Linked DNA regions of Homo sapiens. The protein of the gene in region 2 purifies or fractionates together with the protein of the main gene of each other region. This does not show direct contact. Each region holds a gene or a part of one and is shown on either strand. Other genes may lie near its edges.

What was found. Proteins that work in one complex are often made in the same cells at the same time.
Region 1: the proteins of PHAF1 (region 2) and MASTL purify together in Homo sapiens (affinity purification with mass spectrometry; 3 studies listed by BioGRID and IntAct, with this or other methods). This does not show direct contact.
Region 3: the proteins of PHAF1 (region 2) and NEFH purify together in Homo sapiens (affinity purification with mass spectrometry; 3 studies listed by BioGRID and IntAct, with this or other methods). This does not show direct contact.
Region 4: the proteins of PHAF1 (region 2) and NUP35 purify together in Homo sapiens (affinity purification with mass spectrometry; 3 studies listed by BioGRID and IntAct, with this or other methods). This does not show direct contact.

Annotation. Positions count from the first base shown.
Region 1 is NC_000010.11:27,172,352-27,175,851, forward strand, and holds part of MASTL (serine/threonine-protein kinase greatwall), read left to right. Parts: intron 1-766; coding exon 767-908; intron 909-3,500. UniProt on the Homo sapiens protein: Serine/threonine kinase that plays a key role in M phase by acting as a regulator of mitosis entry and maintenance.
Region 2 is NC_000016.10:67,140,941-67,144,440, forward strand, and holds part of PHAF1 (phagosome assembly factor 1), read left to right. Parts: intron 1-3,353; coding exon 3,354-3,436; intron 3,437-3,500. UniProt on the Homo sapiens protein: Plays a regulatory role in autophagic activity. In complex with BCAS3, associates with the autophagosome formation site during both non-selective and selective autophagy.
Region 3 is NC_000022.11:29,478,957-29,483,017, forward strand, and holds the start of NEFH (neurofilament heavy polypeptide), read left to right. Parts: upstream 1-1,261; 5' UTR 1,262-1,306; coding exon 1,307-2,189; intron 2,190-4,061. UniProt on the Homo sapiens protein: Neurofilaments usually contain three intermediate filament proteins: NEFL, NEFM, and NEFH which are involved in the maintenance of neuronal caliber. NEFH has an important function in mature axons that is not subserved by the two smaller NF proteins.
Region 4 is NC_000002.12:183,158,812-183,162,180, forward strand, and holds the end of NUP35 (nucleoporin NUP35), read left to right. Parts: intron 1-676; coding exon 677-841; intron 842-2,242; coding exon 2,243-2,320; 3' UTR 2,321-2,869; downstream 2,870-3,369. UniProt on the Homo sapiens protein: Functions as a component of the nuclear pore complex (NPC).

The sequences.
Region 1 (3,500 bases), on a different chromosome or scaffold from region 2:
CTGTCTTGCTGGTCTTACAAAGTTGTTGTGAATGCCAGGCGTGGTGGCTCACACCATCTTTGGGAGGCCAAGGTGGGAGGATCACCTGAGGTCGGGAGATCGAGACCAGCCTGACCAACATGGAGAAACCCCGTCTCTACTAAAAATACAAAATTAGCCAGGCATGGTGGTGTATGCCTGTAATCCCAGCTACTTGGGAGGCTGAGGCAGGAAAATTCCTTGAACCTGGGAGGCGGAGGTTGTGGTGAGCCGAGATCGCACCACTGCACTCCAGCCTGGGCAACAAGAGCGAAACTCCATCTCAAAAAAAAAAACTTGTTGTGAAATAACAAATTATCCTAAAAATTTTTAAATGCTATTTAGTACAATAGGTTATATGTAGTTCTGTCTTACGTGTTGTCTTAATCATTTGTTAGCCATAGCCTTCCTCAGTGGCTCTTCTTAAGCTTGTATTAGTCCATGCTATCAGTCTTCTTGCAGATTTTTTCACTGAACATTTTTCTTGCAGATTTTTTTTATTGTTTCTTATCTAGATCTTATTGGAATAATCAGTGTTGTCTAAGCTTTTGAACTTCACCAGATAAAAGGACTTTTTCATAATTATAACTAATTATGCATTCATTTTCAAAACTTATCAAAAATTTGACTACATCCTTTACGCCTAGTAGCCTATGAGCTAGTTATTTGGCTTGTGTGTTTCACCATTTTCTATTCGGTGTAAAAGGAATTAAGATATTTGTTATCTCTTAAACCCTTTTTGAATTAGCAGACCCCAAATCAGATCAAGTCGGGAACTCCATACCGAACTCCGAAGAGTGTGAGAAGAGGGGTGGCCCCCGTTGATGATGGGCGAATTCTAGGAACCCCAGACTACCTTGCACCTGAGCTGTTACTAGGCAGGGCCCATGGTAAGGCATGCATGTCTTGAGTTTTTGAAGTGTTATCTATCACTACATTATCTTTCAAGGTTAAATTTTAAAAAATTTCTTCAGTACTTACGTTACCTAAAGTAAAAGAAAATGAACTCATCTAGTATATATATGGCATTTGTCATAGGAAAATAAACTAGCAGTAGCCATGGCTGTCCCACTCTCTGAATGTAAAAGACCAGATGCTGGAGTACATGTAGTCATTTGTCCTTTGCCTTCTGGTTCAGTCTCAATGTTCCAGAGAAGCCCCACCTGCCACCCTTGATATTATCTTATCTCTTTTTTTATTTTTTTATTTATTTTTATTTTTATTTTTTGAGACAGAGTTTCTCTTTTGTCACCCAGGCTGGAGTGCAATGGTGCAATCTCGGCTCACTGCAATCTCTGCCTCCCAGGTTCAAGTGATTCTCTGGCCTCAGCCTCCTGAGTAGCTGGGATTACAGGCATCCACCATCATGCCCGCCTAATTTTTGTATTTTTAGTAGAGACAGTTTCACCATGTTAGCCAGACTGGTCTTTAACTCCTGACCTCAGGTGATCCTCCCACCTTGGCCTCCCAAAGTGCTGGGATTACAGGCGTGAGCCACCGTACCCGGCCTATCTTACCTCTTAATGTTTCTTCAGGTTGGATGGAGTTTGGGCTCAGGACCACAATGTTGGGTCTAAATTTCTGTTCAGTCTTCAGAAGCCTATTCCTGTTTAGAACTTATTCTCAGTTATATCCTTACCAGAAGAGTCAAGCCAGAAATGAACCATCATCCTTCAAAACAGAACATAAGTATAGAAAGATAGGGCTGGTTACGGTGGCTCACGCCTGTAATCCTAGCACTTCGGGAGGCCAAGGCAGGTGGATCACTTGAGGCCAGGAGTTCGAGACCAAGCTGGCCAACATGGTGAAACCTCACCTCTACTAAAAACACAAAAATTAGCTGGGCATGGTGGTGCATGCCTGTAATTCCAGCTATTCGGGAGGCTGGGGCATGAGAATTGCTTGAACCTGGGAGGCCGAGGTTGCAGTGAGCCAAGATCGTGCCACTACACTCGAGCCTGGGCAACAGAGCAAGACTCTGTCTAAAAAAAAATAAAAATAAAAATAAAAAGATGACATTTTCACCTATCTTCTTTTCTTCCCTTTCTCTCTGAAAACTGTTCCCTTCCTGCATTCTGAAATGAACTGTATTCATCTTCCTAGGGATGCTGTAGCACAAACTGGGTGTCTCAAACCAATAAAAATTCATTGTTTCACAGTTCTGGAAGCTAGAGTTCCAAAATCAGGTGTCCACAGGGCTATACTACCCCTGAAACCTGTAGGGAAATCCTTCTTTGCCTCTTCCTGGCTTCTGGTGGCTTGCTGGCAATCCTCAGTGTTCCTTGACTTGAAGATGCCTCATTCCAGTTCTCCCTCTTTCTGTGATGGTGTTCTCCCTGTGTCTCTATCATCATAGAGCTGGCTTCTGAGAAGGACACCAGTCATTAGGAGCCCATCTTACTCCAGTATGACCTCATCTTAACCTAATCTTAACCTAATTAATCATAGTTGCAAAAACCCATTTCCAAATAAGGTCACATTTTTAGGTACGGGTTAGGACTTAAACATAGCTTTTTTGGGAGGGACACAGTTCAACCCATAACATCAACCTCTTCTACATGTTGATGTTAGTTACTTCCCTTTTCTTTGAGCTCTTTTCATGATCATCTGTTTCATCCTCCCCACCCCACCTCTCACACCCTTTCTTCTGTTTGTATTTCCTTGCCGGCTTTTATCCTCAGCCTGAAAATAAGTTTCCACCCTTGTCTCCCCAACATTGCCTAACTTCTCAAAGGTTTCCTCTTTGTTTGATTATTTTGCTCTGGCAACTTATCATCTCACTATTTAACTGAAAATTCTTTTATTTATTATTTATTTATTTATTTATTTAGAGATGGAGTTTTGCTCTTGTTGCCCAGGCTGGAGTGCAGTGGCACGATCTCAGCTCACTGCAACCTCCGTCTCCCGGGTTCAAGATATTCTCCTGCCTCAGCCTCCCGAGTAGCTGGGATTACAGGCATGCGCCACCATGCCCGGCTAATTTTGTATTTTTAGTAGAGATAGGGTTTCTCCATGTTGGTCAGGCTGGTCTCGAACTCCCGACCTCAGGTGATCTGCCTGCCTTGGCCTTCTGAAGTGCTGGGATTACAGGTGTGAGCCATGGCGCCCGGCCTAACTGAAACTTCTTAATGGGCACCAGTGATTTCCTTATTGTCAAATCCAATTGTCTCTTCTCATTCCCCTGACCTCTGTTGCTGCTCTTCAGTTCCTTCCTTACCTCTTCTAAATATAGTTCTTGGAGATTCTGCCTTTACCCTTTTTGCCCTACACGTGCTCCATGTTCATCTCATCACTCCCATGATGTCAGTTTGTCACCTCCATGTTGATGATTCCCAAATCTCTGTCTCTAATCCTGACTTTCTCTAGGCAGCAGACAGACAGCCAATCTGGCTATTCAGTATTCTACTGATCTTTCAAATGTTGGGTCTCAAAACTGGACTTGTGGGGCCTGGTGCTGTGGCACATGGCTGTAATCCCAGCAC
Region 2 (3,500 bases):
ACTGAAAAGGATTGGAGACAGTGGGGTGTGCTTGTATATTTTTAGAGGACCACCCCAGAGGCATTGCTGTATCCCTGTGCTATGGACCCAGGGAGCTGGATATAGCTGGTAGCTGGCCAGTGCGGACAGTCCAGCTGGTGGGTGAGTTGCATACATGAGAAATTATTGTATAAACAGTGTTTCAGCAGGAAACATCTCAAGAGGGCAGGGCTGGCCTGGACCATGGGTCTTGTAACCTTTGAGCCTTCTACGGTCTGAGGTCCTGAGGTAGCAAACAGTAGATTTCACAGAGGGAGTGAGGAGAGACTGAGTCTGCCTAAGTGGGAAAGACCAAACACAGGAGCCAAGAGTAGTAGGGGAGCTGATGTCCGGTCATGAACTCCTGAGAGTAGGATGGCGGCAGGAGGGAACAGTGCTGTTGCAGCTGGACCTCTGGTTCAAGGGCCAGTGATGATAGTATCTCAAGAAACTTAGGGTGTTGCTTTTCCAGCTGGAAACTACTTTGGCCGGTGGCACCTTTGCCCCAATTTTTGCTTGCTCCCGCTGGGCTCATTCAGCTCACTCAGCCTGGCAGGCTGCGCTTAGCTCATGCTACCAGCCTGGATCCCATGCCTGCCAAGGGCAAGCCAGGCATGGAGTGGCAAGGGGTGTGTGAGCGAGTGAATGTGGCATCCGGCCACTGTGCCCAGCCAGGCATGCTGACTGCTGTGGTGGGGCAGGCAGCTCCAGGCGCCAGCATAGGCACCAGCTCCACGTAAGGGTGAGGCTAGATCACGTGTACCGCAAGCGGCTTCCATTGCGGGCACCCATGTCTGGACAAGGAGAATGCGGTGGCACCCGGAAGCTTGGGGACACCAAGAACCACACAGAGCCCCAAACAGGGTGTCACAGCTCTGGCTCGGGGAGCTCCTAGGTCTGGGCTTCCTGAAGGGCTGCAGCTCTTCTCTTCTTGTCACCCACAATGTGGAAAGCGGGGCAGGGCATTTCAGCCTTATTTGTGTTACACCTCTTTCAGTCCCACCATTCGGTGGGTCCCGAGTTCTTGTCCTGCGGCCAGGAAGAATGAGGTATGCAGACAGCTGGAGGGTGAGCAAAAAGGAGAGGAGCTTTATTGGGCAACAGAACAGTTCAGAGGAGACCCATGGTGGGTAGCTCTTTCTGCAGGCAGGTCATCCTGACGAGTATCCAGCTCTCAGCAGAGAGAAGACCCATAGTGGGTAGCTTCTTTCTGTAGGCAGGTCATCCTGAGGAGTCAAGGAGTCCTGAAGTGGGTAGCTTCTTCCCACAGTTGGTAGTATTGACATCTGTCCAAGTCTGGCTGAATCCAGGGTTTTTATGGGCTCAGAAGGGAGGAAGTGCATGCTGATTGGTCCATGAGCAGGCCCGGAAAAAGCACCATAAATTCTCACTCCACCCACAGACTACCCAGAGCTGGCAGCCCGGCCCCCAGGCCTCAGGCCATCCCAGGCTTGAAGGTGGGGTTTCACCTCAGACCAAGCCCTTTCTGCCCAGGAGCCCTTCTGCTTCCTACCACCATCAGCGTGCCATCCATGGTGCCCATGCTGTTCATGCCGAGGCGGCAGGGGGCTAGTGTGTCAGTGCTGCCCTGAGTGCGTGCACTCCCAACCAGGTCGTGACAGCGCCTGGGCTCAGCCACAACTTTGCCCCTCCCCAGAGCAGGCACCGGGAGTGGGGAGAGGCTAGGTAGTGGGAGCAGGCACTTTCAAGCCTGCCGGGGCAAGGGGCCTTCTGGGCCCCTGAGAGTGCAGGGATGCCAGGGTCTGGAGCTGCAGCTGGGAGGCTGCAGCTACACCCAGGAGCATGGGCTCCTGCCCTGCCAACTTAGTAGAGGCCAGGGCTCTCACCTGTTCCCAGTTCCCATAGGCTCTGCATAGTTCTATGGGAAAACAGAGGTCCCGGCCACACTTCCTCTGCTCCAGTCGGCATCCTTGCAGCGGCCACTCCAGATGGGCCATTGCTGCCATCAATAGGTGACAGGGAAGATGGAGAGAATGGACTGGCCTCAGTAGGACTTAGTTGGCTGTGGGTACAGGGGTAGAGTCAGAGGTTACCCTGAGGTCACGGGCCCAAGCAGCTGGATGGATATGAAGCTGGAAAGGGTAGGGGATAGGAGGGAAGTGTTCACTGGGTGGCATCAAATCCAGGTCCAAGTCCTAGAGAGAGGTCAGGCTGGAACTTCAGTTCCTGGGGTTGCTGACTCCCACAGAGGGTGTAATGGAAGCCAGGAGGGTCTGATGGATTGTGGAATTCAGAATAGTCAAGTGGCCTTCAGCCCCTCAAGAACCAGGTGACTTGGCCAGCATGGTGGCTCACGCCTGTAATCCCAGCACTTTGGGAGGCCAAGGTGGGTGGATCACCTGAGGTCAGGAGTTCGAGACCAACCTGACCAATATGGTGAAACCCCCATCTCCACTAAAATTACAAAAATTAGCCGGGCGTGGTGGTGTGCACCTGTATTCTCAACTCAAGGAATCCTCCTGCCTTGGCCTCCCAAAGTCCTGAGTCTGCATCCTCGGATTCTCTTGGCTCTGCTGCTTACCATCTGGGCACCACGCTAGGTGACTTACTGCACCTCCTGGGGCCTTGGTTTCCTCATCTGTAAAGAGGAACCTGCCTTGAAAGTTTGTAAAGCACCTTTATTCAGTAAATCTTTATTGAGTACCTACTGTGTGCCAGGCACTACTCTAGGAGTTCGGGATACAGCAGTGAAGAACACAGACGGACAACCCTGCCCTCACGGAGCTTATATTCAGAGGGAAGAAAGCCACTTAGCAGGACAAAGAGCTAAAATGGATAGTACAGTGTGTTGAGAGGTAACACACATGACAGAAAAGATAAGGTATGGGGCCAGGCACGGTGGCTCACACCTGTAATGCCAGCACTTTGGGAGGCCGAGGTGGGCGGATCACCTGAGGTCAGGAGTTTGAGACCAGGCTGGCCAACATGGTGAAACCCCGTCTCTACTAAAAATAAAAATAAATTAAAAAAAAAACAGCCAGGCGTGGTGGTGGGCGCCTGTAATCCCAGCTACTCGGGAGGCTGAGGCAGGAGAATTGCTTGAACCCAGGAGACAGAGGTTACAGTGAGCTGACACAGTGCCACTGCACTCCAGCCTCCATGACAGAGTGAGACTCCATCTCAAAAAAGAAGAAAGAAAATGTCTAAAAGCTGCTTGGCCTGTCCCCTGGACTGTTGTCTGGAAGAAAGGTGATGCCTGCAGGCATTCTTGCTGTGGAGTGCACTGGATGTCCCAAGTTGGACATGCCTTTGGAAAGGCCTCTGCCCTGCCTCAGTAACATTCCCTCCTTGAGTACCCTTGTTTTCTATCCCAGGACATCCTCTTTGATGCGAATACACACAAAGTGAAGAAGTTTGTTCTACACACCAATTACCCTGGGCATTATAATTTCAACATGTGAGTACACCTGTCTGTACCTCCCCTCTGTGAAGTGAGTTTTGGGCTGAAAACCCCAGGAAAG
Region 3 (4,061 bases), on a different chromosome or scaffold from region 2:
GGGGAGGGGGAGGGAGAAAAGAGGACTTCCTAGTGTTGACAGAACGGCAAGATGTGGGTTCCCCATCCCCAGTTCAGCCAGAGACCCCTCAAAGTGGAACTTCCTGGGGCAGTCGGGGGTCAGGAGTTGGAGCTTGTCTCTGGGGCAAGACCCCTTCGTTGTACAGATGGAAAAACAAGGGTGGGAGGACACAGCTTGTCCAAGGTCATTCGACCAGCAAACTGCCTAGCTGACCCCAGTGTGCAGAAGCTGGCTCGGGTGACACCCATCATTTCCCCCCACCCCACACAGGGGCCAGCTCTCTCAACTTCATGCCCAAGCCCTCCTACGGTACCCCCACTGTAGGTTCTCTGCCCCTCAAACTCAGCCCAGCTTTCTCCTGCCTGTTCAGGGGACCTTCTGCCCGCTTCGCTGAGGGTCCGTCCCCTTTACTGGGGCTGGCAGCAGGGTCTCCCATCTCCTCTCTCGGGGGCCACTGCAGACTTTTTAGAGAACGCCTTGCCTCCCCCCAACCCCACCCATCCGGGGTTCCCTCTCTCCATCCTCTGCAGTGTCTCCCATACCCCCATTCAGGGTAGCCTTGCTATTCTCCCCAACTCCAGGTCCCCCTTCATCTATTCCGGGGCTGGCCGCGGAGTTTCCTGAGCGCTCTCCAAGTGGGTCCTCTAGATGTTAGGAGAACACTGTACCTCCCCCGGTCAGGGGTCTCCTGTCTCCGTTCTATGGAGCGTCCATGCTCCCATTCAGGACTGCCTTGCTCCCTCCTCTGTTCCGGGGCTGGCTGCACAGTCTCTGCACCCCCTATCCTGAAAGCCTCTCTTAACTATTTGGAAAGCCTCGTGTCCTGTCTCATACAGGGATCCCCTCATCCTAATGACTGCAATCTTCCATTGCTCCATCCCGAGGGCATCCTGCCCCTATTCCCATCAGGTTTCTCCTTGTCCTCTCCCTGTTTCAAGTCCCCTTTCTTATTCCGAACACACTCGCAGGCTCTTCCGACGCGCACCCGGGGGTCCTCACTGGCCCACTCCGGGAGTCCTCTGCCCGCTTCCCCGACCTCGAGGGTCTCCTCTGACGCAGCGTCGATTCCCCTTCCCTCCTCGGTCCCCTGCCCCGCCCCTCTCACTGCGGCGGAGCCGGTCGGCCGGGGGGCCGCAGGGGAGGAGGCGGAGAGGGCGGGGCCCTCCTCCCCACCCTCTCACTGCCAAGGGGTTGGACCCGGCCGCGGCGGCTATAAAAGGGCCGGCGCCCTGGTGCTGCCGCAGTGCCTCCCGCCCCGTCCCGGCCTCGCGCACCTGCTCAGGCCATGATGAGCTTCGGCGGCGCGGACGCGCTGCTGGGCGCCCCGTTCGCGCCGCTGCATGGCGGCGGCAGCCTCCACTACGCGCTAGCCCGAAAGGGTGGCGCAGGCGGGACGCGCTCCGCCGCTGGCTCCTCCAGCGGCTTCCACTCGTGGACACGGACGTCCGTGAGCTCCGTGTCCGCCTCGCCCAGCCGCTTCCGTGGCGCAGGCGCCGCCTCAAGCACCGACTCGCTGGACACGCTGAGCAACGGGCCGGAGGGCTGCATGGTGGCGGTGGCCACCTCACGCAGTGAGAAGGAGCAGCTGCAGGCGCTGAACGACCGCTTCGCCGGGTACATCGACAAGGTGCGGCAGCTGGAGGCGCACAACCGCAGCCTGGAGGGCGAGGCTGCGGCGCTGCGGCAGCAGCAGGCGGGCCGCTCCGCTATGGGCGAGCTGTACGAGCGCGAGGTCCGCGAGATGCGCGGCGCGGTGCTGCGCCTGGGCGCGGCGCGCGGTCAGCTACGCCTGGAGCAGGAGCACCTGCTCGAGGACATCGCGCACGTGCGCCAGCGCCTAGACGACGAGGCCCGGCAGCGAGAGGAGGCCGAGGCGGCGGCCCGCGCGCTGGCGCGCTTCGCGCAGGAGGCCGAGGCGGCGCGCGTGGACCTGCAGAAGAAGGCGCAGGCGCTGCAGGAGGAGTGCGGCTACCTGCGGCGCCACCACCAGGAAGAGGTGGGCGAGCTGCTCGGCCAGATCCAGGGCTCCGGCGCCGCGCAGGCGCAGATGCAGGCCGAGACGCGCGACGCCCTGAAGTGCGACGTGACGTCGGCGCTGCGCGAGATTCGCGCGCAGCTTGAAGGCCACGCGGTGCAGAGCACGCTGCAGTCCGAGGAGTGGTTCCGAGGTACGCAGGCGCGCGGGTGGGGGGAGGGGCGCCCCTGCTGACCCCGCAGCGAACTTTTGGGCTGCGTGACCCAAGGGGGCGCTGCCGGACTGCGCGTGGAGTGGCGCGCTGCTCACCTTCCCTCTGCAAAGTGCATGCCCCTAGTTAAATCGCAGTTTTACTCTGGGTCTCTTGTGGGACGCCCCAACTCTGGGTTGTCCTTCGGTTCCCCCTTTCCAGGTTCTTTACGGCTGTACTTCAACTCTGGGCCCCCTGCTGCTCTCTACCCCAAGCTTAGGCGACCCCACTCTGAGATCCCTCCCCCGTCAAGAAAAAAACAAGTTTCCTCTACAGGAAAAAAGTGGTGCAGGATTCTGGTCTGCAAGCGCTGGAGACTCTTAGCCCTTCTAAGTAGCAAGGCTTCCCCGCCAATGCTGCCATGCCCTCTCCTACACCCCGCAAGAAACTCTATTCCTCTCACCCCTACCAGGCTCCTTCCCACTACCTGCTCAGTGCTTAACGTTCCTACCTTAAATCTTCCACGTGGGGGTGGGTCAGGACCTTTTCGCATCCTTTCTTCCTAGAGGGAACCATTACTACAGTCAGTTGTTGCCTGTGGCGGAGGTGGCTGGTGGGCCCTTTCATGTTTTAATGTCCCCTTTCTCCTTTAGGGAAGCTGGGAGCCTCCCAAGTCTGCCCCTCCCCCAACTCCTTGCAGCCCTGAGTCAGCTAGATTGCGCTGCCCTGAGGCTGTGCCCAGCAGCTGCAGGGTGACCTTGACCAACACTTGCCCTCTCTGGTTTTCATTTCTTTTTGAGTTGAAAGAGGAGGGTAGATCAACTGGGCTGCTTAATCCGGGGAGTTCCATGATGTCTCACGAAACTGTCTGTAAAACTTTGCGTTGTTTTTGAGAGAGAGGGCAGAGGCTTCAGTGATTTTCCAAAAGCATCTGTGATCGACAATAGTTGAGAATCTCCAACCACCTGGATGGTTTCTAAGTCTTTGCCAGCACTAGCAGGGAAAGCTGGGATTTTGATGCATAGCTTTTTCTGTTCCTTTTCCACTCCTCTGCAGAGCAGAACCATCCCCTCCTCCATCTCCGCAGCAAGGCCCCTCCCTGCGCAAACCTCTTTTGGGTTTGCCAGTCGTAGGGGCAGACGTCCCAGGATTGTACTGGCCCACTCAGCTGGCTTCCTTCCTCCCCGCCAAGACTTGTGCCCTGAGTGCCACTATCTGGGGATTCAGGATGTTCACTTTTACGAGCTAAAGACCAGTCTCCAGACCTCCACTGCCTCTGGAAGGTTTCCTGGGAACCACGAGCGGGTTGCTGGCGGGGGCCGGGGTGTGGCTACCAATGCTCAGGGGCAATGCTCAGCTAGGTGGAGAAAGGGACAGGGGTTGGCACCCAGGCCACGGGCTCTGCACTGACCTTGGACTGTGCGCAGAAACCTGTAAGGAAGGGACCATGGCTACAAGGTGACCTGATTGCTCACGGTACCCTCATGCCTCCTAAAGGTCACAAGCTCATTAACTTGTTCAGCCACAAACCTGCAGCCTCCAGCTCAGTGTTAAGCCCCATGGGCCAGGTATCACATCTGAACCACCAGCACTGCCAGGCCCTTGCTAGGGAGCTGGACCAGGCATTAGGACCAGGGTTTCCTCTGCCCTGCAGGGTTTTTGGATCCCACACTGGGGGAGACAGAGCATGATCTTTGGGGATTTGAGTCCCAGCTCTGCCACTCACTAGCTGGGTGGCCTTGGGGAGTAGTCACTTGCCTTTATCTCACAGGACAGAGTGAGTCAAGCATACAGGATGGTGTCTGGCACACGCAGTAGGTCAATCCACATGTGTCACCTTCAAAATCTGGGCATTAGGCCGGGCGTGGTGGCTCA
Region 4 (3,369 bases), on a different chromosome or scaffold from region 2:
TAGTTAACTTTTAAATGTCAAAGGTTTTCGTTTCAAAATATTTCTGTTTAAAACTATTTTAAAATTATTCTATATATACTCATTAAATAGTACAGAGTACAATTTAAACTGTTCTTTGTGGCTTGTTAAATCATTGTGAACATTCTTTAAGTATATGTGAACTTGTACTACATTCCAGGCATTGTGCTTGGTGCTAGTATACACACATTAATGAACAAAGCAAGATGTGGTTCCTATTCTTAAAATCTGTTATATCAGTGTAGTTATATAGTTATAATACTGTGCTGTAACAAATGTTTGCAGAGGCCAGAAGAATATTTGGGGTAACTAAGTGCTAAATAGCACTGGAGTTTGATTCTTTCCAATCCAGGTTTCCCTAAGAATTTTTTTGTCCTTGCTGATTTTTCATAGTGTTTTAGGAAATTCTTATTTTTGTGGTCTATAGTTGTATTGAGATTGTTTGAGGTCACTGAAGTGAGATTTCTGTCTGAGCATTCAATCTCAAATGCTACCTAAGAAGCAAATATTTTCTCAAGCCTAAAATTATTTGCAAGTTTAATTAGAGCAAATAAAGTATTTCATCTTTATCTTTTAATTAAATTTTCTAAGTAGGATGTAATACTGGATGATATGTATTATGTTTATAAACAAAGGAGTTATTTCTTTGTTTCTCCAGAGTGTTATGGAAAGCAGTGACAGATGTGCTTTATCATCTCCATCTTTAGCCTTTACACCACCAATCAAAACTCTAGGTACACCAACACAACCTGGAAGTACTCCTAGGATTTCTACCATGAGACCTCTTGCTACAGCATACAAAGCCTCTACTAGTGATTATCAGGTATTTTAAGGATTGGATAAAAAAAGATGTACTTTAATGGCTGAGTGCATAGCATGCTTAACTTTTTCATTGTATTGATTTGTATGCCATTAAATGTTTCCTGTGGAGGCTATTACCTTGATGAAACCTTTACGCTTTAAAAGTTTTCTGCTTTAAAGTTAACATCTTGGCCAATTGGAAAGTTATCATGAATTAAAAAAAAAAAATTATTTGCCATTCCTTTAAATTTTTTGAAAGTTGTTTTAGCTTTTTCTAAGTTATATTTGCATACATACGAAATGTATCCTGTGTGCATCTTTGACATGAGGGCGCATTAAAACTTTATTAAATTGATGACTAAATTGATGGTATCCAAAGTGCAGAACCTTAGGTTGGAGTAGCTTTGGTTATTTAAATGAAGACATTGACCAACCTCCAGACAGAAAAAAATTTCTCACTTCAAAAAAGCTTAAAGAAGTTAATTATGTTCTTTGAAGAATGGTAGAAGTATTATGATCTCATTCAGTATATTATTGTCTCCTACTGACTAGCCAAGTGTTCGAACTTAACCAGCTGCAGAAACAGGTCCTGAAACACACAGTACATGAAACACTTGTGCTTTAGTAGGGCAGATAGTGGTAGTTCAGTTTTTTGACTTCCTCTGAAATTTGGAGATTATTCTAGAACTGTTTTTTTCTTTAGGTTCTATTACTGTTATTTTAAATTTCCCATTCAGTGCAGCTTTTGTTATTCAATTTTTCTTTCTTTTGTTTTGAGACGGAATGTCTCTCTGTTACCTAGGCTGGAGTACAGTGGTGCTATCCCAGCTCACTGCAACCTCTGCCTCCTGGGTTCAGGTGATTCTCCTGCCTCAGCCTCCTGAGTAGATTACAGGCACGTGCCACCACGCCCAGCTAATTTTTTGTATTTTTAGTAGAGATGGGACCATGTTGGCCAGGGTGGTCTCAAACTTTTGACCTCAAGTAATCTGCCCACCTTGGCCTCCCAAAGTGCTGGGATTACAGACCTGAGCCACTGCGCCCAGCTATTCAATTTTCTAATTTAAGAAACAGATGTTATTTGCTTTGCCAAAGGAATAAAATTTTGGCATTCTTAAAAGCATAAGGATATTCTAAGTCCATATTTTAATTTTAAAAATATACAATTCAGGCCGGGCGCAGGGGCTCATGCCTGTAATCCCAGCACTTTGGCAGGCCGAGGCGGGCGGATCACGAGGTCAGGAGATCGAGACCATCCTGGCTAACACGGTGAAACCCCGTCTCTACTAAAAATACAAAAATTTACAATTTAGTGCTATAAATGCATTTTGGTGTTTCTCTTTTAAATGAGCAATTCTAGAATTGCCTATGACACTGAAGTAACAATAACCTAACCGTTTTTTTTGTGTGTGTTTTTTAATAGGTTATTTCTGACAGACAAACGCCAAAAAAAGATGAAAGTCTTGTATCCAAAGCAATGGAGTACATGTTTGGCTGGTAGTAGAACACCAAGAAGGAGGTTGCTACACTAAAACAGAGTTAGCAGAGTGCTGCTGGTTCCTTCGGTTAGTTATATAACTGTTCCTGCAGTATTGGATAGCTATCTCATACTTCTTTTAGAAAGAAGCCTTTTTCATTAAGGATACAACCTATTTGTAGCTCGCACTTTAAAAGATGCTTGAGATACATTTTAAAGAAAACTAAAAATCCCTGTAAATAGGATTTTGTGCTTTCTGTAACAGTGCATGCTTCAGCACAGAAAACTCAGCATTGATTATTGTAAATTAAATAACTGAAATTGTGGTGAGACGTCATAGTCTTCATGAGAACGTGGGGGTGAATTTCATGAAGGGGAACTATAGTTATTTCTACCGACACAAATATTATAATTAGCAATTTGAATTATGGTCTTTTAATTTAGATAGTATTTAATATTTTAATTATCCTTGTTTGTATATGTCCTGTCACAGAGTGTCCTCTTGGTGTATTCTAAAACGAGCATTCTTTTAAAAAACCTAAAGTTTCTTGATAATAAACATTGTCAATGATATGTGTATTAGTCTGTTTGCATTGCTATAAAGGAGTACCTGAGGCAGGATAATTTATTAAAAATAAGAGGTTTATTTGGCTCAGGGTTTAATTGGCTTGTAGCTGTACAAGAAGCATGATGCTTTACTTGTGGAGGAAAGTAAAGAAGAGTGAGCATATCACATGGTGAAAGAGAGGAAGAGAGCAGGAAGAAGGAAGTTCTAGACTCTTTTTAATAACCAGATCTCACATGAACTCATTACTGCAGGGAGGACACCAAGCCATTCATGAGGGATCTGCCCCCATGATCTAAACATCTCCCACTAGTCCCCACTTCCAACATCGGGGACCATATTTCAACATGAGATTTGAAGGGGACAGATATCCAAATGATATCAATATGTATTGAACATTTTTTGAAAGGGTGATTTATTATAAAAAGCTTTAAGTATTCATTGAAAGAGAAAATATGTATGAACCACTATATACCAGCTTTAATTACCATTAAATTTTGCCATACTT